Homo sapiens: one gene and its partners. The protein of the gene in region 2 purifies or fractionates together with the protein of the main gene of each other region. This does not show direct contact. Each region holds a gene or a part of one and is shown on either strand. Other genes may lie near its edges. The genes, in order: FBN2, GREM2, WDHD1 and FERMT2.

Region 1 (6,762 bases), on a different chromosome or scaffold from region 2:
AGACTTTGATTTTGTAAAAATGATAATAGTAACTGAAAGTATAACCTATAATTATCCTGCTACCAGGTATTTATAGTATAATGTTAGTCATTAAGCGAGTAAAAGCTATAGCTGGCTGATGGCTGGATGCAAACCTGCCTCAGAAAGCACAGTCTGCACCCAATGGGTTCTCAAGCATTTTAAACTGAACTAGTTGTTCGTTCAACTGATTTAACTAAATAGTGTTGTTTTCCATCGTTTTCATTTAGGGTTTATAAATTTTTTTATGCTTTCTCCTCCTGTATAATGAAGGTTTGGGGAATTGCTGGGGGAATGGATACAAATACTTATAGGGACTTTTTTAATTGATATATCATAAACTTCTCTCTTTTAAAGTGTACATGTAAATGGGTTTTGTAGATTCTCACAAAGGTATGCAGTCATCAATACTACCAGTTTCCGAACATTCTCATCACCTCCAAAAGAAACACCATACCCAAGAGCGGTCATTTCCCATTTCTTCCTCCCGACAGGCCCCGGCAACTAATTTTCTCTCTATCTCTAAGGATTTGCCCGAGATATAAGCTTTTGAAGTAACCTTCTGTTAAGAGAATAGAAGAGTTATTCACTAGGCAAACTGCAAATATCTGTTCCCAAGGGCTGCAGACATATTTAGAAACAGTACAAACAGAAAAGAGCAAAGCAAGGGTTTTTTAAAGCCACAATTTAGGGGAATTTTTTTCATTCACGTGCTTTGCAAATCAGTCGTCAGAATAAAATAAAATACTGTGTTAGAGTTATTTCTGCCATAAAATCACAGGCACTTGAGACTCCAGACTTGTTCACGTTTTTGCTCTTGCCTGCTTCCCCGTGTAAGAGTTTCTTTCTTCGTTTCACTAGATGAGAATGAATGCTCCAATCCCAATGCCTGTGGCTCTGCTTCCTGCTACAACACCCTGGGGAGTTACAAGTGCGCCTGCCCCTCGGGGTTCTCCTTCGACCAGTTCTCCAGTGCCTGCCACGACGTGAATGAGTGCTCGTCCTCCAAGAACCCCTGCAATTACGGCTGCTCTAACACGGAGGGGGGCTACCTCTGTGGCTGCCCCCCTGGGTATTACAGAGTGGGACAAGGGTAAGGCGGCCTTCAGCCTCAGCACATAGAGGAATACATGGTTCCTGAGTGAGTTCAGGCCACCCCCCACTGCAGGGAAGAGTACAGTGTCTAAAAGCCAAACCGCAAAAGCATTGATTAGAACTCTTCGGGTATGCAGATAAATACCAAGAAAGCACACACGGACTGTGCTCAGGGTATAGCATTACTTCCTTTGTGATGAGCATAAAACTTGAACTTGTATGTAAATATCACTCTTTGCTCCTCTTATTAAGGGCCTGAATTGATTCAATTTGACCCAAGGCCAGAGACAAACAGATGCTTAAAAATGCGGCTCACACGTTGCCATGGATACCTGGGCTGTGAGGTAGAAGTGGAAATGGCCTTGCCACAGGTTCTTCTACAAATTCTGGAAGGTGCTAGCATAGTGATCACTGAGGAAGGAGTTTGTCCCTTTCTTTGCTCATGTGGCTTTCCTATCGCACAGAGAGAGGATGGTGCCTAGTTGGTGTGGTGTCATTCAGCACGGGCCTGACCCACAAGACAGGCTTCCCTCCAACTAGGCGCACTGTCTCAAGTTCCATGGGCTGTGGCAGAGGTGCTGGCCATTTGCATTCTTCCAGGAAGGCCGTGGTGCTCAGTAACACAGAAGATGGGCATTTAGAGGTCAGTCCAGGTTGCCTTCTTTGAAAGGAGCAGTGTGCAAGGCAGGGACTAAAAGGCATGGACCAAGTCTGTCCAACAATGGTGTATGATAATAGTTAAAACAAAAGGCTTGGTCTACACAAAGGTCATTTAGAGCCAATTCATTGACTCACTAACCAAAATATAAGTTCAGAAATCTCAGTTTTTAAAGCAGGGAGCTTTGTTGCAAGCAGCAAATACAGGCTTCAGGCCCCTGAAACAATGGAACCTGTCTTAGCATTCTCTTTGGAAATTCATACCTTACTTTTACCTTCTGGAGTTAATTATGCTCAGTACTTCAGTCTAACTAAGATTGAAAATTGGGAAAGCATGGGGCTCACCCTCAGAAGAATTTTGCTGTTTCAAAATAAGGGAAAAGTTTATCTATTGTGTGTTAAAGAATTATAGGGGATTGTGGCTCATCCCTGCAATCCCAGTACTTTGGGAGTCCGAGGTAGGAGAATCGCTTGAAGGCAGAAGTTGGAGACCAGCTAGGGCAACATAGCAAGACCCTATCTCTACAAAACATGAAAATTAAAAAAAATTAGTTGGATGTGGTGGTGTGTGCCGGTTGTCCCTGCTAATTTGGAGGCTGAGGCATGAGGAGCTCTTGAGCCCAGAAGTTTGAGGCTGCAGTGAGCAAGATCGTGCCACTGTACTCCAGCTTGGGAAACAGAGCAAGACCCTGTCTCTAAAAGAAAAATAAAAGAGTTGCAAAGAATATTAGGGTTTTATGTTTATGAGTTTAGTGTTTGCTCTGTTGGTTTCGTGTTTCTGAAGAGTCTGCTCTACCACTGGAAAACTATGGTCAAGTCAGTGATAAAGTCTAACAATACTTTGCTTTTTGCAAATAGCCACTGTGTCTCAGGAATGGGATTTAACAAGGGGCAGTACCTGTCACTGGATACAGAGGTCGATGAGGAAAATGCTCTGTCCCCAGAAGCATGCTACGAGTGCAAAATCAACGGCTATTCTAAGAAAGACAGCAGGCAGAAGAGAAGTATTCATGAACCTGATCCCACTGCTGTGAGTATATCCCACTCTGTGTTGCCACAAAATTTTATCCCTACGGAGTCATGTATACAGTGCAGTTCACGTCGTTTTCAGCCTCACTGAAGTTAATCATACCTTGAATTTAATGGATAAATTAATGGACCCAGTATGGAAAAGACAAGTAAATTAAAGTGATTGAATTATTAGATCAAAACACAAAGCTTGGGAGAAAAGACTTTAAGATTCACAGTTTCAGAGCATTTTCTCTTGTTGTAGTTTTTGATTTATGTGGGAGGGTATGTCCATCTCGGGAAGAGCTATTTTTACATGATTCAAAAAATGAAATTATTTTTAATTTGTTCAGTTCTGTTTTATAAATGTATAGCATACAAGGCTGATTTTAATTTTCACTAGGGAAACCAAGTAGGTCTCATATTCTTTGTTTTATTTTTAAGACAGTTGTTCCTTCATTAAGAAGTTTTGTCTTCCAAATCACTTGTATTCTTTAAGGAACTGAAGTTGGAAATTGCGAGCCACTGATATTTCCTTTCCCTAATTGCATTTTGGCAGTGTTTAAAGGGGTGGGCTGCAGACTACCTGGTTTTGAACGTAACTCCCTGGCCCTCCCTATCTGTTACCTCTGTTACATAGTTTGTGTTTATTTAACTTCTCTCAACCTCAGTTTTTTCACCTGTAAGATGGGAATAATAATACCTCTGAAGGCTGATGGAAGGGTTAATTGAATTGAAACATGTGAACTGCCTGGAACAATGCCTGACATATATATCACATGTGTTCAGTTCCTATGAATGATTAATATCTCATATCTAGAGATCTTGATGATTTTCCCAAAGATCTGAGACAGTATGAGGTCGTCACTCACCACTCTCTGCAGTTAATATGACTGAGAAATTACCCCACCAAAAAACCTAATCAACAACTGGCTGGCTGTGTGAATTGGACAACTTGCTTCAGTTTTTTGGGCCTCAGAATCTTTGTCTATATGACCTGACTTGTCTAGCCAAAAAGTTCATGATGCTATTTTATAATAATAAATAAGCCAGTGTTACATTTACCTTAAGTAGACTAAGATACCCAACTGATGTTTGACAGTTGAGATATTCATCAAGTTCCCAAACTACAAATCCAGAAGTTCTGCTTATAAACTTTCCCATTGGGGTACTAGGACATAATTCTGCCTGAACACTGATGGGCACTTCTGGGTCACCACTGCCAAGTCCTCACTTAACAGATGCCCAATCAAAGCATTGTGGTTTTTATCCTATCTTACTTTGATATATTTGTGCTCCTCCCAACCCTCTGAGCAAAAGTCAGACTTGGTTTATCTGGGCCCTGCCCCACTGGCTTTTACCAAAGATGCTGGTTTGAACTGGAGCCCTGAGAACTCTGCAGATCACTCACTCTGTGTACCTCTGATAGCTCCCAGTAAACTCACTCATCATTCACTTACCTTACAAATCAAAGCCCAGCTTTCAGACAGAAGATTCCCCTGGGCGCATTCCCTGCTGATGCCCAACAGCAGTACTTCTTATTTTGACTCCAGAAAAAAAAAAATCATTACCTAAATTTTAGTTTTTAAAAATTATTAATTAGCACAATATTTCATAAACTCATCAAAAAAAACTTGAAATGGGAACACTCTGTAAGCCCAGTCCTGTACCTTTAATTACCTTGTTAAGGCTGAGTGAGAAGTCCTAAAGATTTACAGGGTATTCTCGATGGAATTGGCCTTTTCTTCCAACTGACAAAAATGTACAATAGCCTCTTTCACAGCCACTGCTGGTAAGGAGAGTGCAGAAAGCGGGAGTGGGAAGCCACAGCCTGTCCTCGTGACCAAAGCCCCTGCAGCTGATCTCTTTCTAGTCCTCTGCTTGTGCTGTAGAAGCTTGTCCCAAATCATTTCCTGTTCTTCCTCCAGGTTGAACAGATCAGCCTAGAGAGTGTCGACATGGACAGCCCCGTCAACATGAAGTTCAACCTCTCCCACCTCGGCTCTAAGGAGCACATCCTGGAACTAAGGCCCGCCATCCAGCCCCTCAACAACCACATCCGTTATGTCATCTCTCAAGGGAACGATGACAGCGTCTTCCGCATCCACCAAAGGAATGGGCTCAGCTACTTGCACACGGCCAAGAAGAAGCTCATGCCCGGCACATACACACTGGAAATCACTAGCATCCCTCTCTACAAGAAGAAGGAGCTTAAGAAACTGGAAGAGAGCAATGAGGATGACTACCTCCTAGGGGAGCTTGGGGAGGCTCTCAGAATGAGGCTGCAGATTCAGCTCTATTAACCCTTCACAGACTTGGGCCCAGGCTCAAATCCTAGCACAGCCAGTCTGCAGAAGCATTTGAAAAGTCAAGGACTAATTTTAAAGAGGAAAAATAATAATAACTCTTGTTTCTTTCCTCCCTGTCTTAGACTTTGAATGTTGACCCTCACAGGGAGGGATAATTTAGACTCTGGTATGGCCAAAGATTTGAGCACAAAGGCAACCGTGGTTACTGTATTTTTTATATAACTTCATTTTAAAATATATTAAAAGAAACCTAAATGTTCAAGATATCAGCATATGGCACTAAATGCACAAAAATAATGTGAGCTTTTTTTTTTTTTCCTGTTAGCAGTCTGTAACACTTTGGGTATTTTGCTATAGTTGCTAATTAAAAAAATATAGATGTTTATTTATTTTTAATGCAGTAATATATGGAGAAATGAACAAACTATGTAAACAAAAAGGGAAACTCACTTGTTTTTCTTTAGATTTATAAATTTGAGCTATTTTTTTTAGAGGTGCTTTTTAAAAATCCAATAGATACAAGAGATGTTTCCTTTGGTTTTCTGCCAGTCATCCAGCTGATACACACCTGATGATTTTAAAGAAAGCCACACAGAGCTGAATGGGCAGTGTAATCAATAATTTAAAAAACATGAATGTCATTAGATCCTTTATAACGTAGATCGAAGCCAAAGCAGCTCATTTGTGACAACATTTCATATCACCAGACACACCAGGCAACAGAAGTTGAAGCACAACCACTGTAGCAAAATACCTTGACTGCTTGTGAGACCATTAGCATTGCAGGCCAAACCGTACTGTATTTCCTTCTCATAACCTCAAGGAACCATATGTGCTACCCACAACACCTCATTCTTACCCAGGGTGCGCTGCGTCCTCATGGTACTGTAGGCAGCTGAAGAACCGCCGTTCCCTTGAAAGGGAACACCTGGCATTCTGTGGTGTTTCGTGCTGTCTTAAATAATGGTGCATTTATTATGTTCAAGTTATTTCAGGATTGCCATATGTGCAAACAAATCATGCAATGCAGCCAAGGAATATATGTTGTTGTTGTTGTTTTAAACCCATTTTTTTTTTAGAATTTTCATTAATACTGTAGTTATACACCATATGCCTCATTTTATCATAGCCTATTGTGTATGAAAGATGTTTGTACAATGAATTGATGTTTAGTTTGCTTTAGTCATTTAAAAAGATATTGTACCAGGATGTGCTATTAAGAGCACGTATCCATTATTCTTCTCAACCCAAGAACCTGTTTCCTGGACCAGTGACCAAACCTCATATGTGAAATGGCCAAAGCACATGCAGGCTCCTGGTTGTTCCTCTCAAACCTGTGCTGACCAAAGATTAGTAACCAGTTATACCCAGTATTTTGAGGTTTTATTGTTTTTTTAATAACTAAAAAGAAAAAAGGAACAGTGTAAATTTGTAATCAAGAGTTTGTGAGGAAAAACTTATGGTTTTTGGTTTTGTTTGTTTTTGTAGGTCTGTGTATCAAATATGACACTTTTCTTGCAATAAAGCTTATTTTGGGGTATTTTTCTGACTGAAAATTTTATGAGACCACAACGCCTGTTGTATTTGCGGGAGGGGCTGGGGGCTTTGTCTATGGGAACCTGTATTGAAGTAATAATAGAGAGCCAGACACACAGGAAAATAAAGGAATGCTGGC
Region 2 (7,844 bases):
TGAGTAAGACACCTTCTGGGCCTGCTGTCATCCTTACTCCGAATGGTGCTGCAAGCCAGAGTCAAAACATGTGAAATAATACATGAATAGGTCTATAATACTTTTTAACAGCTCTTTACAATATACGGTCACTTATAAAACCAGCGTTAATATAGAGACCTTTGTGTGTGATAATATTCTAATTGCAGCAATAATAGCATGCACACCAGAGTTCATCTTTAGTCCACAAATAGGGGGCGGGGACAGTGAGGAAGAAGAGGCGGTGGGGACTTGAGGATGGGGGATTGTGTAGCCTGCTCTGCTCGAGGTTTCCCGGGAAGCCCACTTCGGGATCCAAGTGGCTCAAGTTGTCTTCTTGGTATCAGGTTTATTAGGAGACGCCCCGTCCACCGACATATTTATGGAGGTTGCACATATCCTCATCACAGCAGCGACCGAGGGCAGCCTGCCAGTCACAAGAATGAGCGCTCCCAGCCAGAGGTCCAGGGACCAGCAGGAGAGGTCTGAGGGGCCGCTCAGAAAAGTGACGCATCCTTCACTTCGCGCGGGAAAGGGGCGAGCTGGAGTGCAGGGCGGGGCCAGGGAAATCCTTGCTTTTCCACATGGTGGAAACATCAATGCCGGATTTACAGTGCATCACCTCGAAAGGTCCTCTCTGACTGCTGGGTGGCGGTGGTGGTTTTCCAGCATTTTCCTTCGGGCCTGATCCACCGCCTGGTTTAGGGGGCACAGGTGGGACCCGGGGTCGGTCAGGAACACATCAGCAAAAGCTCCACTTGCGATCCACGTCTGTGACAAGGACACCGTCAGCCCTAAGAGAAGTGCTTGCTGCTGAGGGGGAACACCAGGCAGCGTGACAGTGGGCTCGGAGGGCAGGGACAGAGGCGGCGGCGGCGCCACCCAGCGGCCGGGCGCGCGCGGGGCTGAGCTGCGTCCGGCCCGGCGCTCACTGCTTGTCCGAGTCGCTCAGGTTCACGGACATGCACCGGCACTGCTTCACCTTCTGGATTTTCTTGAGTCGGAAGGGTGGGTCCAGGCCGGGGCACTCGAGCTCCACGAGGACGGAGGTGACGCGCTGGGGCTTGCAGAAGGCGCAGGACTGGAAGGACTCCTCCTCCTTCTTCACGTGCCGCGGGATGTAGAAGGAGTTGCACTGGCCGTAGCAGAAGCGGTTGAGGATGGTGCGGCTCCGGCAGCCCTCCTCGCTCACCGTCTGCCGCAGCGGCTGCGTCTTGCACCAGTCACTCTTGAGGTACTTGCGCTCGGTGACCACCAGGGCCTCCTGGCTGGAGGCCAGCACCTCCTTGATCTGGTGCTGCCATCTCTCCGAGTTGTTGCTGCTGCCGTCCTTGTAAGGCGAGGGGATGGCGCCCGCCGGCCGGTTCTTCCGGGCTTCCGCCACCTTCACCAGCACCGCCACCAGGAACAAGGACAGGGAAAGCTTCCAGAACATCCTGCAAACGAGAAAAGAGAGGGGCTGGCTGTGAAGGGCCGTAGAGTACGGGATCAATCTTACTTATTTTTTTTTTTATTTTAGACATGGTCTGGCTCTGTTGCCCAGGCTGGAGTGCAGGGGCACGTAGCTTGCTGCAGGCTCAAACTCTGGGATCCTCCTGCCTCAGCCTCCTGTGTGGCTAGAACTACAGGCTTGCACCACCACGCCCATCTACTTTCTTTTTATTTTTTTTTGTAGAGACGGGATCTCACCATGTTACCCAGGCTGGTCTGGAACTCCTGGCCTCAAGCGCTCCTCTGCCTCAGCCTCCCAAAGCCCTGGGATCATAGGCGTGAGCCACCACGTCTTTTTAATGCTGTACGGTTTTACTAGCAGTGACAGTCAGGTGGGGCATGGCAGACTGATGGCTGCCCAGGGGCAGCTGGAGGTGAAAAGGGATTAAATGGTACAAGTGTAGGCAGTTAGGACTGCACCCCAAATAATGCCTGGAAGGCAAGGAGGCGGACAAAATGGCCAGTAACTTATGCAGTAAATGCAGTTAGAAAACACGCGTGTTGAACAGTTACAGAAGTACAAAGCAAATGCTGGGAAGAGAGACCTCAAGCCAGTTTGCAGAAGTACCAATAATAGTTAATACTCAATATTTACAGTGTTTTACTTTGTGCCAAGTGCTGTCCTAAGAGTACATCTCATTTACATGTATATCTCATTTCATCCTAAAAATAGCCTTCAGTTGGAGGTGGTATTATGACCCCTTTACAGTGAAGGGGTCACTTTACAGTGAAGGAAACTGAGGCTGGGGCCCACAGAAGTTGAGTCATTTACCTGAGGTCACACAACCACTAAACAATGGCCCAGGATTTGAAGCCAGCCAGACATCTACCTCCAGAGCCATCAATGTTAACCAGCAGACATGGATGTGATTACAAAAATTAGTAAGTACAAAGTAGAGAGAAGATGGGTGTCGTTCACAAGTTTCTTTAAAAATGAGTATTAAAGATAGAACTGGACATAGGCTAGAAAAATTACTAGTTGCATCTGTATTATTACATATGAATAATAACATTAGCATTTAACATCTGCACACAGATGTTCAAATCATTCAAATGAGTCATAAATTAGAGTCTCCTAGTAGAAACTAATTCCCAGGTGTGAATTAAGAAATTTCCCTAGCTGACTTTGGGAGGCCGAGGCAGGCGGATCACGAGGTCAGGAGATCGAGACCATCCTGGCTAACACGGTGAAACCCTGTCTCTACTAAAAATACAAAAAATTAGCCAGGCGTGGTGGCGGGCGCCTGTAGTCCCAGCTACTTGGGAGGCTGAGGCAGGAGAATGGCGTGAACCCGGGAGGCGGAGCTTGCAATGAGCCGAGATGGCGTCACTGTATTCCAGCCTGTGCGACAGAGTGAGACTCCGGCTCAGAAAAAAAAATAAGAATAAAAAAATAGAAATTTCCCTAGCTGTATTAAAACTGTCTGATGACAATGCAAAGTGTCATCTCATTTGTATTAGGAGACTATGACACAAATTCAATAGGAATGAGAATTGGACAGAAATTATTCTCATGCTATCTAAAACGTGGCTTGCAGGGCACAAGCCAAAGTCTGACTAAAGTGAAAGATAGACTTCAAAGTGTAATTCACATTTTAAATTTTTGTATTTTTAGTAGTAGCCCCAAGGAACACTAATACCCAGCAATATTGAGGACTCTGATCTCTTTTTACAACGGTAGCTACCAATGTAGCTGTTACCAACATCATCATCATCTTTATGTTTACTCATTTTCTGTTTTACCTTCTCTAGGACTCCATGAATTCCCATTCTTTTAACATGTATACCCTAAAATGGACATGTAACAATTATATATACATCATATGTATCATATAGTAATATAGTATATATCAGTTGTTATATTTATCAATCATGAGTATATAGAAATAACTAAAATTGAATATTAAATATGTTAAATGTTTGAATTTTTTACGTCTTAAATATATCCATGCTAATGGTAATAGCAAATATTTATTGATTCTCAAAGTACATCAAACACTTACAGTTTACTTTCATGTATAGACGTATTTAATGATCTGAGTTCTATGAAGTAGGTACTATTATTTTCTTCATTTTATGGATGAGGACACTAAGGCATTGACAGGCTGCCAAGATTCTATAGCCAGTATGTGAAATATTTGAATCCAGGCATCCCGGCTCCAGAATCTGAGCTCTGGGTGAGTATAGCTGCCTCTTTGTTAAAAATATTTACGTTAAAATATCTATGCTAAAATTATTTCTCTGAGTCTTAGTCTAAGTCTAAACCACAAGAGGCCTTTGCATGCCACCTTGGAGATGATTCCTTTATTCATCAAGTATCCATGGAACGTTTATTCTGGAGTAAGCACTGTCATAGGCTTTGTGAATTCCAGTATCTTAGAGAATAAGGCAAAGGTTTTTTTTGTTTTTGTTTTTGTTTTTTTTTTGATGGAGTCTCACTCTGTCACCAGGCTGGAATGCAGTGGCACGATCTCAGCTCACTGCAACCTCTGCCTCCCAAGTTCAAGCAATTCTCCTGCCTCAGCCTCCCAAGTAGCTGAGATTACAGGCGCGCGCCACCAGGCCCAGCTAATTTTTGTATTTTTAGTAGAGACAGGGTTTCACTATGTTGGCCAGGCTGGTCTCGAACTCCTGACCTCAAGTGATCTGCCGGTCTCGGCCTCCCAAAGTGCTGGGATTACAGGCCACTGGGCCAGGCTAAGGCAAAGTTCTCACAGGGTCGGACGAGCCTTTACAAGATCTCCCCACTCCCCTGCATCTCACCAGCCTCCTCCGTCCTCTCTCCCACTTGCTCACTCTGCTCCAGCCATACTGGAAATAGCCTATCTGTTTCTAGAATGAGCTTGGCATTCTTGTGCTCTAGAGCCTTACCTTGTCTTTCTCCCAAATGTCTACTTGGCCTTCTTCCTCACAGTCTTCAACTCTTTGCTCGGTTACCACCTCTGTAGCGAAGGCTTAGAGTTACCTTCACCACCATCGTGGACGTCACCGTCTCCTCCTTCCCTGCTTTATCTTCCTCCAGGGAACTTATCATCTAACGAGATAGTATTTCATAATCACACTTGTCTTTCTTGTCTGACTTTTCTCCTGGGAATGTAAGGTCCAAGAGAGAAGACCTGCCTGTTTTGTTCATTGCCATGTCTCCTGCTCTCAGAACAGTGCCTGGTGTACAGTAGGCACTCAATAAATGTGTTAAGGCCAGGCTCAGCGGCTCATGCCTGTAATCCCAGCACTTTGGGAGGCCAAGGTGGGCGGATCCCCTGATGTCAGGAGTTTGAGACCAGCCTGGCCAAAATGGTGAAACCCCGTCTCTACTAAAAATACAAAAAAATTAGCTGGGCGTGGTGGCACACACCTGTAGTCCCAGTAGTCCCAGCTACTCAGGAGGGTGAGGCAGGAGAATCGCTTGAACCCGGGAGGCAGAGGTTGCAGTGAGCCAAGATCATGCCATTGCACTCCAGCCTGGGCAACAAGAGTGAAACTCCATCTCAAAAAAAAAAAATGTTGAACGAAATATGGATACTATACAGGTCATTGCCTTCAACAAGTCTGTAATTAAGAAGCCAGAGAAAGGCATGCACGTGACTGCGTGACAAAGGTATTTAGGAAGAATGGCCTGGGTCCTTGTGGTAGTGATCCTGTGACCAACGACATCTGAATCACCTGTGGTACTTTACAGTGCACATTCCTGGGCTCAAGAAGCATTCTTTTTAAAAAAAGTTTTAATTAAATTTCTTTTTAATTTTTAATGTTTGTGGGTACATAATAGGTATATATATTTATGGAGTACATGAGATCTTTTGATACAGGCCCCAAAGCATTCTGGGTCAGTAGTGTTGGGGTGGGGTTTCAGATCTGTATTTCTAAAAATTGCCTCACCCAATTCTGGTGGGATCCAATGGCCACAAAGTATAGTGAGGGCGAAAGGGAAAAGCATCGGTTCTACCTGGAGAAGGAGCAGGAGGAGCTTAGGAAGTCACAAGTAAGTGGGTCCCTTGAAATCTGAACAGGATTCCTCAGGGCGATGATATGGGCAAAAGCAAAGGGTTTGGTACTGTCGATGACGCTGGGCAAAGGGAGTAAAAAAAAAAAATTGAAAGCAGAAAGGAGAAAAAAAAAGTTTTTTTTTTTTTGCAAAAACATTTTGTCCAGCACAATTATTAAAATTTTAACGCCTCATTTTTAAAGGGTTTTTCTCATGCCTCCTTAGTTGCACACATGAAATGTCATATGAAAATGGCCACGCTTCCAGCTGGCTCAGGCCAAGTGTCAAGTATTGGACTCGCTCAGCTTACATAGCTTATTATATTTGTGGAATGATTTGTGATCTCAATAGCCTCTTAAAAAGAAAGTATTTTGGTTCCATTTTAATAATTTCCGAAATTATTAACATTCTGAGTAAACATAACCAAGAGTTTGCAAGTCCCAGCCAGGAAAGATTGACAGAGTCAGTCTGGTCCTCAATTCCTAGTTCCAGTAACAGCTTCACATGCATGGCTGATAGACTCAAAAATGCACGCTTTCCTTCAACAGGTCCTAGATCTTATCAGAGAGAACAGAGCTAAGACAGAGCTGACAGAGCTAAATCAGATCAATTTGAGGCAAAACCTCTTAGGGCCAATAGTATTAGATGTGGTGCTGGGCATTCTTTGAACTCATTAACATGTTTTCAAAACATCTGGCAATCATCCTTAGAAGTTAGGTCTCACGGGAAGCTAAGCAAAAATGCAAACCTTCAACTTTCAGGAAGGGGGAAAAGTGGTTGAGGAAATCTCGATGACTGGGGCGAAGTCAGTCTCTTCTCTTTTTCCTTTCCTACATCTCATTTCTTTTCTCCTTCACACATAGCAATAGTAAGATGGCCAAGGATCTGGCATCTCACTGTCAGACAGGTAAGTAGGCAAGAGGTGTTCGGCCATGGTGACCCACAGTGACTGTGAGGCTGTATCCTCCTACTTCAGAGCATTCAGGCAGTTGAGCCAGCAACTGCTAACGGCACCTACACTGCTGGCCCTTGGCTGTGCAGAGTTCACCAGGGGAGAGAACGTCCGTTCTCTTGCTTGCCTCTGTCCGTTCGCTCATCATCCCTGCACAAGCATGTCAGCGGCCCCGCCAGGAGCTGAATTTAGCACTTTATAGAAAGTCCCACTCTGTCCTGAACCACTTTGCTAATCAGAAAAATGGTTGGCACACAATTAACCTTTCAGGAATGTTGCCACCCCTGCCGGTAACGACAGCACGAGGATACTTCATTTTATTCTCACATCTTGTATTTGGCTTGTATCAGAAGAAACTCATAAATAAATCCTGTTGGTTTTATTAACCATCTTTCTGGCCTGACCATGTTCTCAATTTACAAGGGGTGCCAGGACTGTAAATGCTGATGGTCTAAGCAGACTGGGTTGGCCAAAGTTGGTTGTGCAAAGAGAGAGGTAGTGGAAGTGCTTTCCTTTTAAGTGAACGCCCTCAGGCCTGGCCTCTGTAGATACCAGAATAAGGACTGCACAGGCCAAAGCAAGCTAGTATTTAGGCAGCTAAGGAATCCATCACAGGCCCCTTCTATCAGCCGTTCCTAAAAGTGGCAAGACCTGAACAGGGGTTCTACAACAGGAGCTTGAACAATAAAACTTCCTGATTTCTAGGAAAGAATACAGTAGTGCTGAGTCATCCTTCCTGACAGGCAAATGCAAGTGACCAATGGCAAAGGGTACAGCTAAGCTGATGAACTCACTCCAAGAGTGGCCTTCTTGAGTTTTAGAAGTCAAATCAAGTTAGCCCTGGGCTGTGCAGGAATGGTGAATGGCGTGGGGCTGAAACTTTTTCTACAACCTGAGGATTTTATGGCATTCTTGGAAAGTTGAAGGGAAGTCCCCAGGGCTGAATAGCTGAATACTGATAGGCACATCTGGGATAAACTTGCTCCCATTACCCAAGTGAAAACCATGGCAGAACCAAACAAAACTCCCAACAAGATTACACTTCAGAGGTCATTTTTATGAGGTTTAGTACTGCCACAGCCTCAGCTACTAAAGGCACTTCATCGATGACTTGGATTCTTAGGCTGGGAGGGTGGTGGTCTGGCTCTTCAGTTAAACCTTTAGAGACAGAGGTCGATGTTTCTTGGCCCTGGGATCAGGGATCATCCTCGCAGCCAAAGATTGCTTGCTTGCTGAAACCACTTACCCCCAGCTTCTATAAACTAAGGCAAACTATGGCCCACAGGCCAAACCCAACCTGAGATCTGTTTTGTAAATAAAGTTATGTTGGAACACAGCCACAGCCACTCATTTAGTCTATGGCTGCTGCTTTGGTGCTATAAGGGCAGAGTGAGTGGT
Region 3 (7,844 bases), on a different chromosome or scaffold from region 2:
TTCAAATTGGTTGGAGCTTCAACTCAGTAATTACAATCACAATGCATCTCTGAAAGGCCCTGCATTTGGAGGCAGAGTAATCTGCAAAGATGATAGTTTTTACATATGTCCTGTTACCTACACCAATATAATTACTACATTATCTTATAAAGACAAACAGTTGCTTCAAACTCTTTAAAAAATATATATATAATGAGTTTCCCAAAGACTCGAGTCTATATTCAAAGATGAGTAAAAAAAAATCCATTACTTCCCTAGGGTCACTTTCTTCCTTTACTCCTGCTTAAATGCAAAAGCTGATAGTTTCTGATTTGTAGAAAAATCTAAAGGTTTCTGCTTTTTAGACAAATTCAGGTTCTCTTTTGCTTTTTCTTCCTGGTTTTCTGTTTCATCACTTTCATCAACCACACGTTTTCGCTTCTTTGCTTCAGTTCCTTCACTTGCCGTTTCTCCTTTGGCTTTGTTAGCCCACACCTTTGTAAAATGGCAGGAGTGAAAAGGAAAGATTTTTAGAAAATAACAAATAAGAAGTAAATGATTTATTTACTTTTCCAGGTAATATTTTTATATATAAAGCAGAATAATTAGCACTTGAATTAAGTGTTCTCATTGTTAACAAATCTTTTATTACTTAAATGCAGAGCACATTAAAGATTTACACTACTTTTATATCTCAATCTAAGCTTTGCTTATATTAATCATATTAGTTGCAAAATACTATAATTGCAGTACTATTTAAAAATGAAACTTTTGGCCAGGCACGGTGGCTCATGTCTGTAATCCCAGCACTTTGGGAGGCCGAGGTGGGTGGATCACGGGGTCAGGAGACTGAGACCATCCTGGCTAACACAGTGAAACCCCGTCTCTACTAAAAATACAAAAAAATTAGCCGGGCATGGTAGCGGGCGCCTGTAGTCCCAGCTACTTGGGAGGCTGAGGCAGGAGACTAGAGTGAACCCGGGAGGTGGAGCCTGCAGTGAGCTGAGATCACGCCACTGCACTCCAGCCTGGGCGAGAGCAAGACTCCGTCTCAAAAAATAAATAAATAAATAAATAAATAAATAATAAAAATGAAACTTTTTATTCTAAGATAATTGCAGTTTCACATGCAGTTGTATGAAATAATACAGAAAGATCCTGTGTAGCCTTCACCCAGTTTTCCCCAGTGGTAACATTTTGCAAAACTATAGCCCAACAATCACAACTATAGGGAACTGACATTGAAACAATCCCATTTTACTTCTACTCATTTGAGCGTATGTATGTATTTACTTTTATTGTGGGTTGGTTTGTTTACCACCACAGTCAAAATACAGAACCTCTTCCCCAAGCCCCAACTCCGACTCCAACCCCTGGCAACCACTACTCTATTCTCCATCTTGATCATGTTGTCATTTCAGGAATGTTATATAAATGAGTATATATTCTTTGGGGTTTGGTTTTTATTCACTCAGCAAGAGCCAGACAAGGTCCATTCATTTCATCTGTCTCTAAAATCTCTTTTAATCTATAATAGTTCCCCACTCCTACTTTATTTCCCTGGCCATTTCAAGGGCTCTTCAAGCTGTAGAATTTCTCACATTAACAAACTGGATTTAAGTAAATGTTTAGGGTTTACCTTAAAAATACTGATTACATTTTTAAGTATTCAAAAACACAATCACAGACTTTGCCAAGTCTCTTCCTCTTTTGCAGTGTAAAGTCTTATTTATTTAGACGCCATTTTATTGAACAACAAATGAGAAACATAAAATTGTAAATGAGGTTCTAAATGACGCTAAAGGTGTTTAAACCAGTTTCTGGCTTCCTCATTATGCAACACCTTTTTCATAAAACCCAATTTACCAAAGCAAGTATCTACGTTACTAGGTGCCTGTGCTGCGCCCTGCCATTCCTGGGGAAGTGAAACCTGAGGATTTAACTGGTACACCACACACATTCCTTCCACTTCTAACTGAGAGATTGTGCCTTCCTTCCTTCACATGGCAGAAGTTTATCAGAAGCAAGCCAGCCACCTGTCCTAATTTCCATGTGAAAGGCTGGAACAGAACACCAGTCTTTTTCCCAAAAGGAATAGTCTCATGTAGTATTTAATGTGTAAGTAGATACAATTTTTAAAAATTCTGCTTGCAAGAACCCTAAAGTAGTATTCAAAAAATGTGAATTCATTTTTACTTATTAATTTTTTTCCCCCTAGAGACCCGGTCTCACTCTGTCACCCATGCTGGAGTACAGTGACACAATCACGGCTCACTGCAGCCTTGACCTCCTGGGCTCAAGTAAGTGATCTTCCCACCTCAACCTCCTGAGTAACTGGGACTACAGGTGTGTGCCACCATGCCAGGCTAATTTTTAAATTTTTGTAGAGATGGTGTATCACTATGTTGTCTAGGCTGGTCTCAAACTCCTGGGCTCAAGAGATCCTCCTGCCTTGGCCTCCCAAAGTGCTAGGATTACAGGCTTGAGCCAACGAACTCAGCTTGACACTTTTGATTTTTAACAAATGCATCTTTTCTTGGGGTATTCTCCTAACTTAAAACATACAGGAACTTATAGAGATTAAAACAGTAAACCGTCAAAAAATTAACCATCCAGCCTGGGCAACACAGTGAGAGGTTGTCTCTATAAAAAAAAAAAAGAGGACAATTGCTTGTGCCCAGGAGGTCGAGGTGGCAGTGAGCCATGATCACACCACGACACTCCTGCCTGGGTGAAAGAACAAGACCTGCCTCAAACAAAAACAAAACAAAAAACCCATCACCATTACATAATAATTACTACATATCCATATTACCATATATCCGCACTTACTTTCCTCTTTAAAAAGTTTGGTGGATGTATTCAATTTCCAAAAACAGAAAAAGGCTTTTCCTTTTTTTTTTAGTTGTCATGATCGTTATTATCTTTGTTGTTGTTATTATTATTATTAGAGACGATGTCTCACTATGTTGCCCAGGCTGGTCACGAACTCCTGAGCTCAAGTGATCCGCCTCGACCTCCCAATGTGCTAGGATTACAGGCATAAGACACCATACCCAGCCAAAAGGCATTTCTATAAGAATTTTTTAAATCTGGGAATTCACTAAGATCTCAATCTCGGCACAATTATCCTTACCTTTCTTTCTTCAGTTGACAATACTCTAAATCGAATCATTCCTTCTTTTATTATGTCTGCTTCATCTGAAAAGTCAGGATTGTCAGACAAAATATTACTTCTATTTTCTTCTAACCACATCTGGAACCCGGTCTTTGGCCTAAAATCACAATTATGTGAAAACATTTTATACTTAAGACAGAGTTTAAAGTGCCTCATGATTTTAAGTTAGTAATCAACCATAAGTCTCTGACATCTATTATATAAAGTAAGGAAGACACAGTTACACTTGTTAATTCATGTTACTTTTTTTTTTTTTTTTTTTTTGAGACAGAGTCTCACTCTGTCACCCAGCCTGGAGTGCAATGGCGCGATCTCAGCTCACTGCAACCTCCGCCTCCTGGGTTCAAGCGATTCTCCTGCCTCAGCCTCCCAAGTAGCTGGGATTACAGGCATGCGCCACCACACCTGGCTAATTTTTTGCATGGGGTTTCACCATGTTGGTCAGGCTGGTCTCAAACTCCTGACCTCACGTGATCTGCCCGCCTCGGCTTCCCAAACTGCTGGGATTACAGGCATAAGCCACCGTGCCTGGCCTCATATTACTTTAAACTGCCTGGAGACTGCAGGATCAATGAACTGGAAAATCCTTTGTAAGGTCAATTCAAAAGGATCACTCACGTTTGTATTTTCCAAGTGCAGCAACCATGAACTCTGTACTTTCAACTTTTTAATGAATGTTGACAGGCTCAAGGTCTCCAACCTCACTTAGCCCTTGTGGCCTACCACATGTCCTTGGTAGGCTCTTTTTCTATTTCCCCAAACCAGCTATTTGAATTCCTCACGACTTTTCTCAAGCCCCTTTGCCATCGCCTCACCCTTGCTCTCAGAGCTGACCTGCATCAGCATTAGGTGAAGCACGGACACAGCACATTTGTACATTTCATTAGATTCCACTCACAATACAAATTGTCTTTAAGTCACACAAGTGAAGGTTTAATGCAAATATTTAACATTTACTGATCACTTACTATCTACCAGGCACTACTCTAAAAGCTTTATGTATAGTACCTCATTTAAATGACAATAACACTATGAGATGGATACAGTTATTATCTCCATTCCATAAGTGAGAAAAGGGAGGCTCAGAGATGTGAAATAACCTATCCCAGGTTACACAAACAGTAAAACTCAGACCTGGGATCCAACAACCAGGCAATTTGACTCCAAAGTCTATGTTTTTTTGTAGAGATGGAGTCTAGCTCTTTCCCCTATGCTGGAGTACAGTGGCTCTGTATTGGCTTACTGCAACCTCCACCTTCCAGGTTCAAGTGATTCTCCTGCCTCAGCCTCCCAAACAGCTGGGACTACAGGTACGCGCCACCACACCCAGCTAATTTTTGTATTTTTAGTAAAGACAGGGTTTCACCATATTGGCCAGGTGGGTCTCGAACTCCTGACCTCATGATCCACTCGCCTCGGCCTCCCAAAGTGCTGGGATTACAGGCGTGAGCCACTGTGCCTGGCCCAGAGTCTCTTATGTTTAACCCAGCAGCTATACGCCCCTCACTAGGCTGAACCTAAATGAATCCTAAATAAAAAGTCTAAACTTTTTAAGGTTAAAAAAATTTTTATTAAAAAATTACTAGTATGACCATAACCATTTGCCCAATTTCTGAAAATATGCAAATTTTAAGTAATCTTAACGTAAACCGATTTCCAGAAAAATAACAGAACAAATCAAAACAAGTAAAAATCAAGGTATAACAAAGGTTCCTGAATTTCCAAAAATTAATGAAGACCCATTTTAATGAAACTTGGGGCAATGTCACAAGTCTACTTAGTGGCCTGCAATCATCTACTTCTAAACAGCTATTTTTAAAAAGAAAACCAAAATTGAACATTTCTTTCTTTGTTTTTTAAAGAGACGTGAGTCTCACTATGTTGCCTAGGCTGGCCTCAAACTTCTGGGCTTAAGCAACCCTTCTGACTCAACCTTCTGAGTGGCTAGGACTACAAGAGTGCACAGCCACCTGGCTAAAACTGGACATTTCTGATTAAGTATATCAACATCTGTGACAAAATATTAGTTTCAATAGTGGTAATTCCTTAAAATTTCAAAAGTAAGTTTTTTGTATAACCAACTGATAGTATGAAAAATTAAATTATCAATCTTCTTTGTTGTTGTTTTAAGAGAAAGGGTCTTGCTTTGTCGCCCAGGCTGGAGTGCAGTGGTATAATCAGCTCACTGCCACCTCAAATTCCTGGGCTCAAGCAATCCTCCTGCCTCAGACTCTCAAGCAGTTGGGACTACAGGCATGTGCCACCACACACACCTGGCTGATTTTAAAACTTTTGGTAGAGATGGGGTCTCCCTACATTGCCCAGGCTGGTTCCAATCTCCTGGGCTGAAGCTAACTGATCATGTTGGCCTTCCAAAGTGTTAGGCTTGGCCAGGTGTGGTGGCTCACACCTGTAACCCCAGCACTTTGGGAAGCCGAGATGGGCAAATCGCTTGAGGCCAAGAGTTTGAGACCAGCCTGGCCAACGTGGCAAACTCCATCTCTACCAAAAAATAACAAAATTAGTGGGCATGGTGGCACACACCTGTAATCCCAGCTACTCAGGAGGCTGAGGCATGAGAATTGCTTGAACCCAGAAGGTGGAGGTTGCAGTGAGCTGAGATTGCACCAGTGGACTCCAGCCTTGGTGACAGGGCAAGACTGTCTCAAAAAAAGTGTTAGGCGGGCCAGGCATGGTGGCTCACACCTGTAATCCCTGCACTTTGGGAGGCCAAGGCGGGTGGATCACCTGAGGTCAGGAGTTCAAGACCAGCCTGACCAACATGGAGAAACCTCATCTCTACTAAAAATACAAAATTAGTCGGGCATGGTTGCGCATGCCTGTAATCACAGCTACTCAGGAGGCTGAGACAGGAGAATCACTTGAACCCAGAGGCAGAGGTTGCAGTGAGCCGAGATTGTGCCATTGCATTGCAGTCTGGGCAACAAGAGCAAAAAGAAAAAAGTGTTAAGCGGAAAAAAAACCATGAGCCACTATGCCCGGCCTATCAATTTTCTTAAATAAAATTTTCACTGTTTAAGACCTAAATTAAATTCAGAACAAAACAGGAAATGTGAAAACCACAGCCACTCCCTCAAACTGGTTAACATAAAGTCATTAAGAAAATAAGATATACTTTATTATTATTTTTCTCCCTGGACTGTTCAGCATGAGAAAAATGAGATATATTATGGTAAAAATGAAATTGTGACTGTTCTTTTCTTTTTGTTTTTTCTGAGATGGAGTCTCACTCTGTTGCCCAGGCTGGAGTGCAGTGGCACAATCTTGGCTCATTGCAGCCTCCGTCTCCTGTGTTCAAGCGATTCTCCTGCCTCAGCCTCCCAAGTAGCTGGGATTACAGGCATGAGCCACCATACCTGGCAAACTTTTGTATTTTTAATAGAGATGGGGTTTCACCATGTTGGCCAGGCTGGTCTCGAACTCTTGACCTCAAGTGATCCGCCCACCTCAGCCTCCCAAAGTGCTGGGATTACAGGCGTGAGCCACTGTGCCAGGCCAAAATTGTGACTTTTCAAATTTAACGGATATATTAAAAATAAGGCCAGGAGTGGTGGCTCACACCTGTAATTCCAGCACTTTGGGAGGCCAAGGTGGGCAGATCACCTGAGGTCAGGAGTTTGAGACCAGCCTGACCAACATGGAGAAACCTCGTCTCTACTAAAGATACAAAATTAAGCGGTTCCAAGATGGTCGAATAGGAAGAGCTTCAGCCTACAGCTCCCAGCATGAGCGATGCAGAAGACGGGTGATTTCTGCACTTCCAACTGAGGTACCAGGTTCATCTCACTAGGGCTTGTCGGACAGTGGGCGCAGAACAGGGGGTGTGGCACACCGAGTGTGAGCTGAAGCAGGGCAAGGCATCACCTCACCCGGGAAGCGCAAGGGGTCAGAAAATTCCCTTTCCTAGCCAAGCAAAGCTGTGACACACAGCACCTGGAAAATTGGGTCACCCCCACCCTAATACTGTGCTTTTCCAATGGTCTTAGCAAACGGCACACCAGGAGATTATATCCCACTCCTGGCTCAGAGGGTCCCATGCCCATGGAGCCTCACTCATTGCTAGCACAGCAGTCTGAGATTGAACTACAAGGCGGCAGCCTCAGCCAGGAAACTCGAACTGGGTGGAGCCCACTGAAGCTCAAGGAGTCCTGCCTGCCTCTGTGGACTCCACCTCTGGGGGCAGGGCATAGCCGAACAAAGGCAGCAGAAACCTCTACAGATTTAAATGTCCCTGTCTGACAGCTTTGAAGAGAGTAGTGGTTCTCCCAGCACAGAGTTTGAGATCTGAGAATGGACAGACTGCCTCCTCAGTGACAGGTGGGTCCATGATCCACAAGTAGCCTAACTGGGAGGCACCCCCCAGTAGGGGCAGACTGACACCTCACACGGCCGGGTACCCCTCTGAGACGAGGCTTCCAGAGGAATGACCAGGCAGCAACATTTGCTGTTCACCAATATTTGCTGTTCTGCAGCCTCCGCTGCTGATACCCAGGCAGAGTCTGGAGTGGGCCTCCAGCAAACTCCAACAGACCTGCAGCTGAGGGTCCTGACTGTTAGAAGGAAAACTAACAAACAAAAAGGACATCCATACCAAAACCCCATGTGTACGTCACCATCATCAAAGACCAAAGATAGATGAAACCATAAAGATTGGGGAAAAAACAGA
Region 4 (7,844 bases), on a different chromosome or scaffold from region 2:
CTCAGTTTTGGATAGAAATTATAATCTCACCAGGTGCACATTTTCAGTATACTGACATTCTTCGTAACAGATTTATTTAATAGATCTTTGAAAGAAACAAGACTTTGCCTAGAAGTTAATGTTTTTTCACACTTTATCTACATGCACACTCTGTAGCAGAAATACCCTTTGCCCAACTGAGTTGGAGTAATGTGTTCAGCACATTTAATAAGTGTGGGGTGCCCAATTAGTCCTTTCAAAAGGTGTCACACAATTTTAAGTTTGAAAAATACCTGTCTAGTTTAAGGATCTAGCTTTTAAAGCCCCAGGACTAACGATCCCAGTATTCTTTAAATGCTGATAAAGAGTTCACAACTTTGCTTTGTGTTTTAGGATTAACAGTGTTCGGATTTTAGAGGGTTTTTTGTTTGTTTGTTTGTTTGTTTGTTTGAGATAGAGTCTTGCTTTGTTGCCTAGACTGGAGTGCATTGATGCAATCTTGGCTCACTGCAGCCTTCGCCTCCCGAATAGCGTGCACCACCACTCCTGGCAAATTTTTGTGTTTTTAGTAGAGACAGGGTTTCTCCATGTTGGCCAGGCTGATCTCGAATTCCTGACCTCAAGTGATTCAACCGCCTCAGCCTCCCAAAGTGCTGAGATTACAGGAGTGAGCCACCACACCTGGCCTAGATTTTACAGGTTTTTTTTAGTACTAACATTGGAAGAACACATGTCAGGGACATAAAATCAAATATCCTGTGTCCAGCAAGAGATTACATATTTTCAGTAAAAACTTTTTTTTTTTAACTTTGCTTCCTAGACTAGGTCATGACAGCTACAAAAATCTCTAGCATTAGCACCACTTTTTCACAGGCAGTGTTTCTATCATTGCATGGGGAGAAGAGTTAAAAATAGTAGGAAAGGAGATGGATTTCTAAGCTTAACCCTAAATTTAGGGAATGGAAAAGCCATTTTCTTTACATTAACAGTGTTATGCCCATTGCACATTTTCTTTTGAAAAATTATGACAACAGGACAAAATATAATTTAACAGAGCTAGGACTTGGGGGAGCTGCTTGTCCTTAATGTCATTCTGAACATTTTTAGATGCCTTAAATTCATCTCCTTAATTTTTGTAGTTTAAATAAAGGAGCACATACCATCTGTTGACTAATGTAACAAATTGTTATTTACGTAACCTCTACTATATGTCTAGCCCTAATACTAAGAAATCAGAAGATAAATAAGGCAATATCCCTTCCTTTTGAGATTTGACTATTAAATATATCTCTGTTTAGACTCTTTCTAGGGCAGACTTTTATCTCCCCTTTTACATTAATACTTTATTTGTTGTACCCCAGAACTTAAAAATTAAAAAAAACTTTATTTGTAAAATTGTTGAAACCTGTTTATTCACTGAGAAGACTTTACTATAAAATTATTCTTAATCTATATGAATTCAGTTCTATTGTGTTACCTTCAAATTGTATGGATTTCAAATGGTGGTAAAAGTTGTAGACATATTTGTCACTATATACTTGACTACAGCACAACTTCATTCTTTTAAATTGAACAAAAAAAACCGTTTTACTTAGGTTGTAGCTTCTAAGGTTCTTTACTCTGAAATCCACTTGAAATGTGTACTTCAGTTTATGATTCACAATTAGGGAAAATCTGTTTTTTCTTTTTCTCATTTTCTTTTCATTCTTTTGTTTCTGTCCTCTGTTGTGGCCTTTCCTTTACCTTCTGAATTCCTTTCTTTCCTTTCCTATAGGCACTGATGTTCTTTACATTGGCCCTCTGAAAGGTGAGCCTTGCCACAATTTAAAGACAAAAAGTGTTGGTCTGTCTGCTTCAGCTATATCCTTATTTTCTAATTCTCTTGAACTGATTTTTTTTCCCCAGAATTTCTGCCAACTTAATTATATTCTTAAGGCTTTATTACGTGTTTTAATGTTATACAAGGAGAATTAATTACACATGTTTTCATAACAGGTAAAATAATATACTAAGCTTTCCTTTCAGAATAAAACTTTTGTTTCACAATGTGCTTTATATCATAATATGTGTTATTATTGAAAAATAAGATGCTGTACTGCATACTTACTACCTGTTTTTCATGTTACTTATTAGGAAGTATATATTCAAGCCCAGGACTGTATAGTAAAACAATGACCCCCACTTATGATGCTCATGATGGAAGCCCCTTGTCACCAACTTCTGCTTGGTTTGGTGACAGTGCTTTGTCAGAAGGCAATCCTGGTATACTTGCTGTCAGTCAACCAATCACGTCACCAGAAATCTTGGCAAAAATGTTCAAGCCTCAAGCTCTTCTTGATAAAGCAAAAATCAACCAAGGGTAAGTTTTAAGATATAGATAAAATTGAATTTCTTCATCCAGCTAGAGGTAGAAATATTGTCTTCATTCTGTGTTGTTTTGTTCCACTGTTCTTAATTTGTCCAGATGGCTTGATTCCTCAAGATCTCTCATGGAACAAGATGTGAAGGAAAATGAGGCCTTGCTGCTCCGATTCAAGTATTACAGCTTTTTTGATTTGAATCCAAAGGTACCGAGGGTTTAAAGGGATCTTTTTTTTTTCCCCATTAATTTGTTTTGTTCACATGGATGTTTGTTTTTGGAAGTCGGTGGAATAAGGAATTATTTGTATATAGGAAATCTTGAATAATTATTAAAAACCCAAACTTTTAGGCAAAGGTATTTGTATTTTAAATAAGTCTATTTTAGTAGGTTGGAAGCATAACTAAACCTTTTTATTGTTGTTATTAAGATAATGAAACTTTTGGCTGATTTGGTTTTATCTTTTTTTTAATCTCTAAGCTCTTAGAGTGTCATGATTTGTATTTTAAAGGTACTCTTTTGGTACTATAGAACTGGCAAAGTTTAGGCCGGGTGCAGTGGCTCAACGCCTGTAATCTCAGCACTTTGAGAACCCAAGGTGGGCGGATCACATGGTCAGGAATTCAAGACCAGCCTGGCCAACATGGTGAAACCCCGTCTCTACTAAAAATACAAAAACTAGCCACGCATGGTGGCACACGCTGGTAATGCCAGCTACTTGGAAGGCTGAGGCAGGAGAATCACTTGAACCTGGAAGACGGAGCTTGCAGTGAGCCGAGATCATGCCACTGCATTCCGGCCTGGGCAACAGGGCAAGACTCCATCTCAAACAAACAAAAAAAAGAATTGGCAAAGTTCATTTTTAAAATATAAGACCTCTCTTCAACTATATTTAAATAAAAGTTTCAAAAAGGTTACCTTTTCAATTACTTTTAGATTACTAATTACGTGCCAAAAGATGTTGCTTCAAAAAAACGTTTTTTTCTTGAGACAGGGTCTCACTCTGTCCTCCAGGCTGGAATGCAGTGGTATGATCATGGCTCACTGTAACCTCAAAGTCCTGGACTCAAGCCATTCTCCCACGTCGCCTCCCAAGTAGCTGGGACTACAGGCTCACCCAGCCACACCTGGCTTTCTTATTTTCTGTAGAGACAGAGTCTCACTATTTCACCCAAGCTGGTCTCAAAACTCCTGGGCTGAAGCCATCCTCCTGCCTCAGCCTCCCAAAGTGCTGGGATTACCGGCCTGAGCCACCATGCTCAGCCAAATTTTTCTTAGGTCTACATTTTTTTCCTCTGTAACAGACAAACACTGTTACTTGTCTTTACTATGATTGGTATTATCTCTGCTACCATAGTACTTCACTTTTCTGGTAAGATTTAACTTTACCATAAATATCTGGAGCTTTTTTCCCCCGTAGAAAACACTTGGCACAGAGGTTTGAATCTTTTACTTCTCTTTCAGCCTGGGGAAAGAAACCTCTCTTGGCTACCCTCTCATCCTTTTCATGTTTAGAGTATAGTCTAGATTTTAATGTTATGTTTACATTCTTTTATTATATGCTTAAGTAATTCTTTATACAACAGTAAAATCTCTATAATAAAATTATAGAAAATAATTTTAATTCATTTTCAGGCCACATCATACCTACTTTTAGTAAAGCCAAAGCTACTTTGGGAATAGTTACATTTGTGAGGGGAATGGAGATGTATTTTGTCAACGTTCTAAAATACATGTTGAGCATTCCTAATTTGAAAATGTAGAATGCTCCAAAAGCTAAGACTTTTGAGGGCTGACATGATGCTGAAAGGATATGCTCATTTTGGATTTTTATGTTAGGGACACTCAACTGGTATAATGGAATATTCCATCATCTATAAAAATTCTAAATTCAACACAGAAGGTCTCAAGCATTCTGGATAAGGGATACTCAATCTGCAGTATTCTTAAGGCATTACTATTGACTTTTATTTATATAATTAAATGGATAATTGAATAACATATAAGTAAACATTTTCCACAAGTATATTTGCCCTGTATTTTGCATACTTAAAATAACTGCCGTTTCCAAGGACTTGCCACTTTATCTGGGTATGCTTCTCCACAGTGAACAAAATGTTCCCCAGAATAATTTGCTTTCTGATTACATGTTTGTATGGCAAGTTGCAGTAATAACACTGAAAAATAATCGGTAGTTCCGCCTTACTTTAATGTCATCAAATTAGATTTCTTATGTTAAAGGCTATAATGTCTAGTGGTTATTTCCCTGAAAAATAACATACAGAATCTACTTTTTAATACTGTACAATCAATTATTCTCTGTCATATTTTAATGTCATTTTTAATGGAAAATTAGATGTGGGCATATATAGGCATGTCTGACCCCATAGGTATCCTTCTAATAATACTTGATTGTAAATAAAAATTCTTGCTTGTAAATTAAGATCCCAGGAAAAAAAGCATTAAATTTTTCTTGTCAATTGAATATTCAGAGTTTGAAATTTTTCAATGGTAAAGGTTATATATTACAAAAGAACTATTTCTCTTGTTGCAGTATGATGCAATCAGAATCAATCAGCTTTACGAGCAGGCCAAATGGGCCATTCTCCTGGAAGAGATTGAATGCACAGAAGAAGAAATGATGATGTTTGCAGCCCTGCAGGTAGTTGAAAGGTCTAGTAAATGGGACTTATTCCGGTAAAGGGTAGGGAGGTATTTTTAAACAGTAAAGTGGAATAGTAATTCCAGTAACATTTCACGAGACAGAATTTTTGCCATGAAGAAAGTGAGTAGACACTTAGGAAAGCAAAACAAATACATTTTAGTTTGATTTTTTATCTTTTCCAAGAGTTCAGTGGTATACTTAAGTACTTTTCTCTATTTTGTAGGAAAAAAATTATCCTATTTTGTAGGAAAAAAATTATCCTCTCACCCCCAAATATAAATCTGCTCAAAGCTCCTCAGTTTTTCCTTGGAAAGAAAATATTTATTAAAAATCAGATTTCTGAAATCTAATCTGAAGCTTACCTGTATAATTTCATAAATAGCCAGGGATGATACAACACACTATAAAATGGGCTGTAGCAAAGCGATGCTTTTAGGTGATAAGATTTAGAGAGACTAGTGGAACCAAACCTTTTTCTACAATGATAATCCTTAAGTAGATAGCTAACATTGTCCTTAGATTAAACCAGTTTTTTCATATGTGGTTCTTACATACCACCTCCTTCAGAATTATAGGGGAGCTTATTTAAAAATTAATTATCCACTTCATGAATAACTTTAAGGTGGCATCCACACATCCACATTCTTACAGATACTGAGGTCTGATGACCAAATTAATTCATCTTTCTTAAATTTCAGATACCCGAGTAATGCTTTGGCAAGTATTCCCAGTTATGACGGGATTCTAGGTTCAGCCTAAAGTCCTGATGAAGTTGGTGTTCTATAAATAACAGAAGTACAGGAAGCAGAGTTGACATTCAGTTGAAGAACTTTTCACTGTAGAAGGGATTTTGTTTTTCCTTAGAACACAAACAAAAATGCTCTCAGTCTTCCAAATGCCTCCTTTATGCATCCAGAAAAGTTTTCAGTTGTGACCCAAAAAGTTGACATTAGAAAGCAAGAATGGGGAGTGAGGTTAGCAAAAAAAAAAAAAAAAAAAAAAAAGCAAGAACAGCTAATTTTCACCTTAGTTTTACATAATGAAAGGAGTGGCAAAGAAGCATAGACAAGGAAAATAAATCCCAGGTGACAGATGGATTAATCAGTTATTTTCTAGGAACTTGATTAATGAGCCAGTTAGGATCCCGTATTGTGTTTCCAGATAATTCTGACTCTCTGGTGAATTTCTTGAATTAAATTCTGGAGCAGTTTGTTGGGAGTCCCCTCACGTGGTTATGGCTTTCTTCCTGCATCCTCCTCACTTTGATACAGGCTTATGATTTTCTAGTGGAGGTTTTGCCAATGATAGAATAATAATACCTGTAAAATATGTGTGAAAGACCACAGATTTTATACTGTTGCTTTATTTTTGTATTAAAAAATAGTACATGTTTATGGTTATTGTTTTTAAAACCAACAGATGCCTATTATATGCCTGGCACATAGTAGGTGCTCAAAACGTGTTTGTAAAATGAGAGTACACACAGTTGTGTTCTCACAGGAATGGCATGATTCTGCAGCCCACCTCCCCGAGTGTATCTTGGGCATTCCATATCACTACAGAAGGAACACCTCAGAGACCACAGGTTTTAATTCATGGAAATGGAATGGTCTCAAACCATAGCCCTCCAAGACCATTTTAGAATCTAGATATAATGAGAGTATTTTGACATACAGATTTGAGTTGTTGGAGGCTTTCTCAGAGACTGACCCTAAGGTTGTAGGAAGCCAACTAGTACCAGAATAAGGAAACTGTGAAAGTATGGTGAGGAGGAGATGCCTAGAATTTTTTCTTTCAGAGAGAACCTATACTCCGAAGTATACTCTCCTTGGGACATCTGGATCCTTGTGTAAAGTAAATTTACAATAGTAAAAAGAAGCAGAATAATACAAAACAAGAAGGTGGGGATAAAAAGTAAAGTAGATGAATTAGTAACATTGTTTTTAAAGCATTTAAGTCAGAGTATGTATTAAGAAATTTAAGATATCCCTTGCACTTTTGAAAGCAAAGCTGGATTTTTTAAGTCCCATTCACAGCCAGGATTTCTCCGGTATGACTCATAAAGACATTTTGCATCAGAATTACCCAGAGCAGTGAGTAAAAATGCAGATTCCAGGCTGGACCCCAGACTTCCTGAATCAGGATCTCTGGAGTAAACCTAAGGATCTGTATTTTTGACCAATTCTTCACCAGACTCTTAATATACTCTGACATTTGGGACCTGAGGGCCTCAACCTCTACCTCATTTCCCATAATTTATGAACATTGACATTTCTACAATTGTAAGATCTCATTTCAGCACAATTGAAGTAGTCAGAGACTATTCATTACCAATCAATCACTAAATCTTAAAACACAGAACATTGGTAAGTGGCCTCAGATTAGTTCACTAAATGTTCCCATGAAATGAATGTATTAAATGAATACTTTAGACATTTGGAGTGCCACTTGTTGCTTTGAAAGGTAATTGATTAAGATTTAAAGGTTCTGCTGACCTTTGTAGAAAACCTAAGGCTTAACATAATATTTGTTCTAAGTCACTTACTGAAGTATATTTAAAATCAGTAACTATTCTGTATCCAAAAATTTTCCTGTCTACATATGAGTAGTCATCACTACTCACTACTCTCTCTCTGCCCCCACCCCACCCACGTATATGTGGGTGTCCATGTGCGTACTCACGTACAAACATTCTTAGATATGAGAATACAGAACATGAAGCAAGGATGGGGAAAAAGTGGAGTTTTAGCTTTCGACATAATAATGATGACTTTCTCCTGGGTAATAGGAGCAGTGTACAGCATTCAGTGTTCATCAGTTTCTACAAAAGACCTTATGCAT

The links.
Region 1: the proteins of GREM2 (region 2) and FBN2 purify together in Homo sapiens (affinity purification with mass spectrometry; one large-scale study listed by BioGRID and IntAct). This does not show direct contact.
Region 3: the proteins of GREM2 (region 2) and WDHD1 purify together in Homo sapiens (affinity purification with mass spectrometry; one large-scale study listed by BioGRID and IntAct). This does not show direct contact.
Region 4: the proteins of GREM2 (region 2) and FERMT2 purify together in Homo sapiens (affinity purification with mass spectrometry; one large-scale study listed by BioGRID and IntAct). This does not show direct contact.

The regions. Positions count from the first base shown.
Region 1 is NC_000005.10:128,257,774-128,264,535, reverse strand, and holds the end of FBN2 (fibrillin-2 precursor), read left to right. Parts: intron 1-879; coding exon 880-1,111; intron 1,112-2,628; coding exon 2,629-2,800; intron 2,801-4,706; coding exon 4,707-5,081; 3' UTR 5,082-6,627; downstream 6,628-6,762.
Region 2 is NC_000001.11:240,492,023-240,499,866, forward strand, and holds part of GREM2 (gremlin-2 precursor), read right to left. Parts: intron 5,576-7,844; exon of another isoform or gene 5,456-5,575; intron 1,455-5,455; coding exon of another isoform or gene 1,454-1,454; coding exon 947-1,453; 3' UTR 1-946. UniProt on the Homo sapiens protein: Cytokine that inhibits the activity of BMP2 and BMP4 in a dose-dependent manner, and thereby modulates signaling by BMP family members. Contributes to the regulation of embryonic morphogenesis via BMP family members.
Region 3 is NC_000014.9:54,941,217-54,949,060, forward strand, and holds part of WDHD1 (WD repeat and HMG-box DNA-binding protein 1), read right to left. Parts: intron 3,255-7,844; coding exon 3,116-3,254; intron 475-3,115; coding exon 274-474; 3' UTR 1-273. UniProt on the Homo sapiens protein: Core replisome component that acts as a replication initiation factor. Binds directly to the CMG complex and functions as a hub to recruit additional proteins to the replication fork.
Region 4 is NC_000014.9:52,875,738-52,883,581, reverse strand, and holds part of FERMT2 (fermitin family homolog 2), read left to right. Parts: intron 1-1,753; coding exon of another isoform or gene 1,754-1,786; intron 1,787-2,112; coding exon 2,113-2,338; intron 2,339-2,443; coding exon 2,444-2,546; intron 2,547-4,892; coding exon 4,893-5,000; intron 5,001-7,844. UniProt on the Homo sapiens protein: Scaffolding protein that enhances integrin activation mediated by TLN1 and/or TLN2, but activates integrins only weakly by itself. Binds to membranes enriched in phosphoinositides.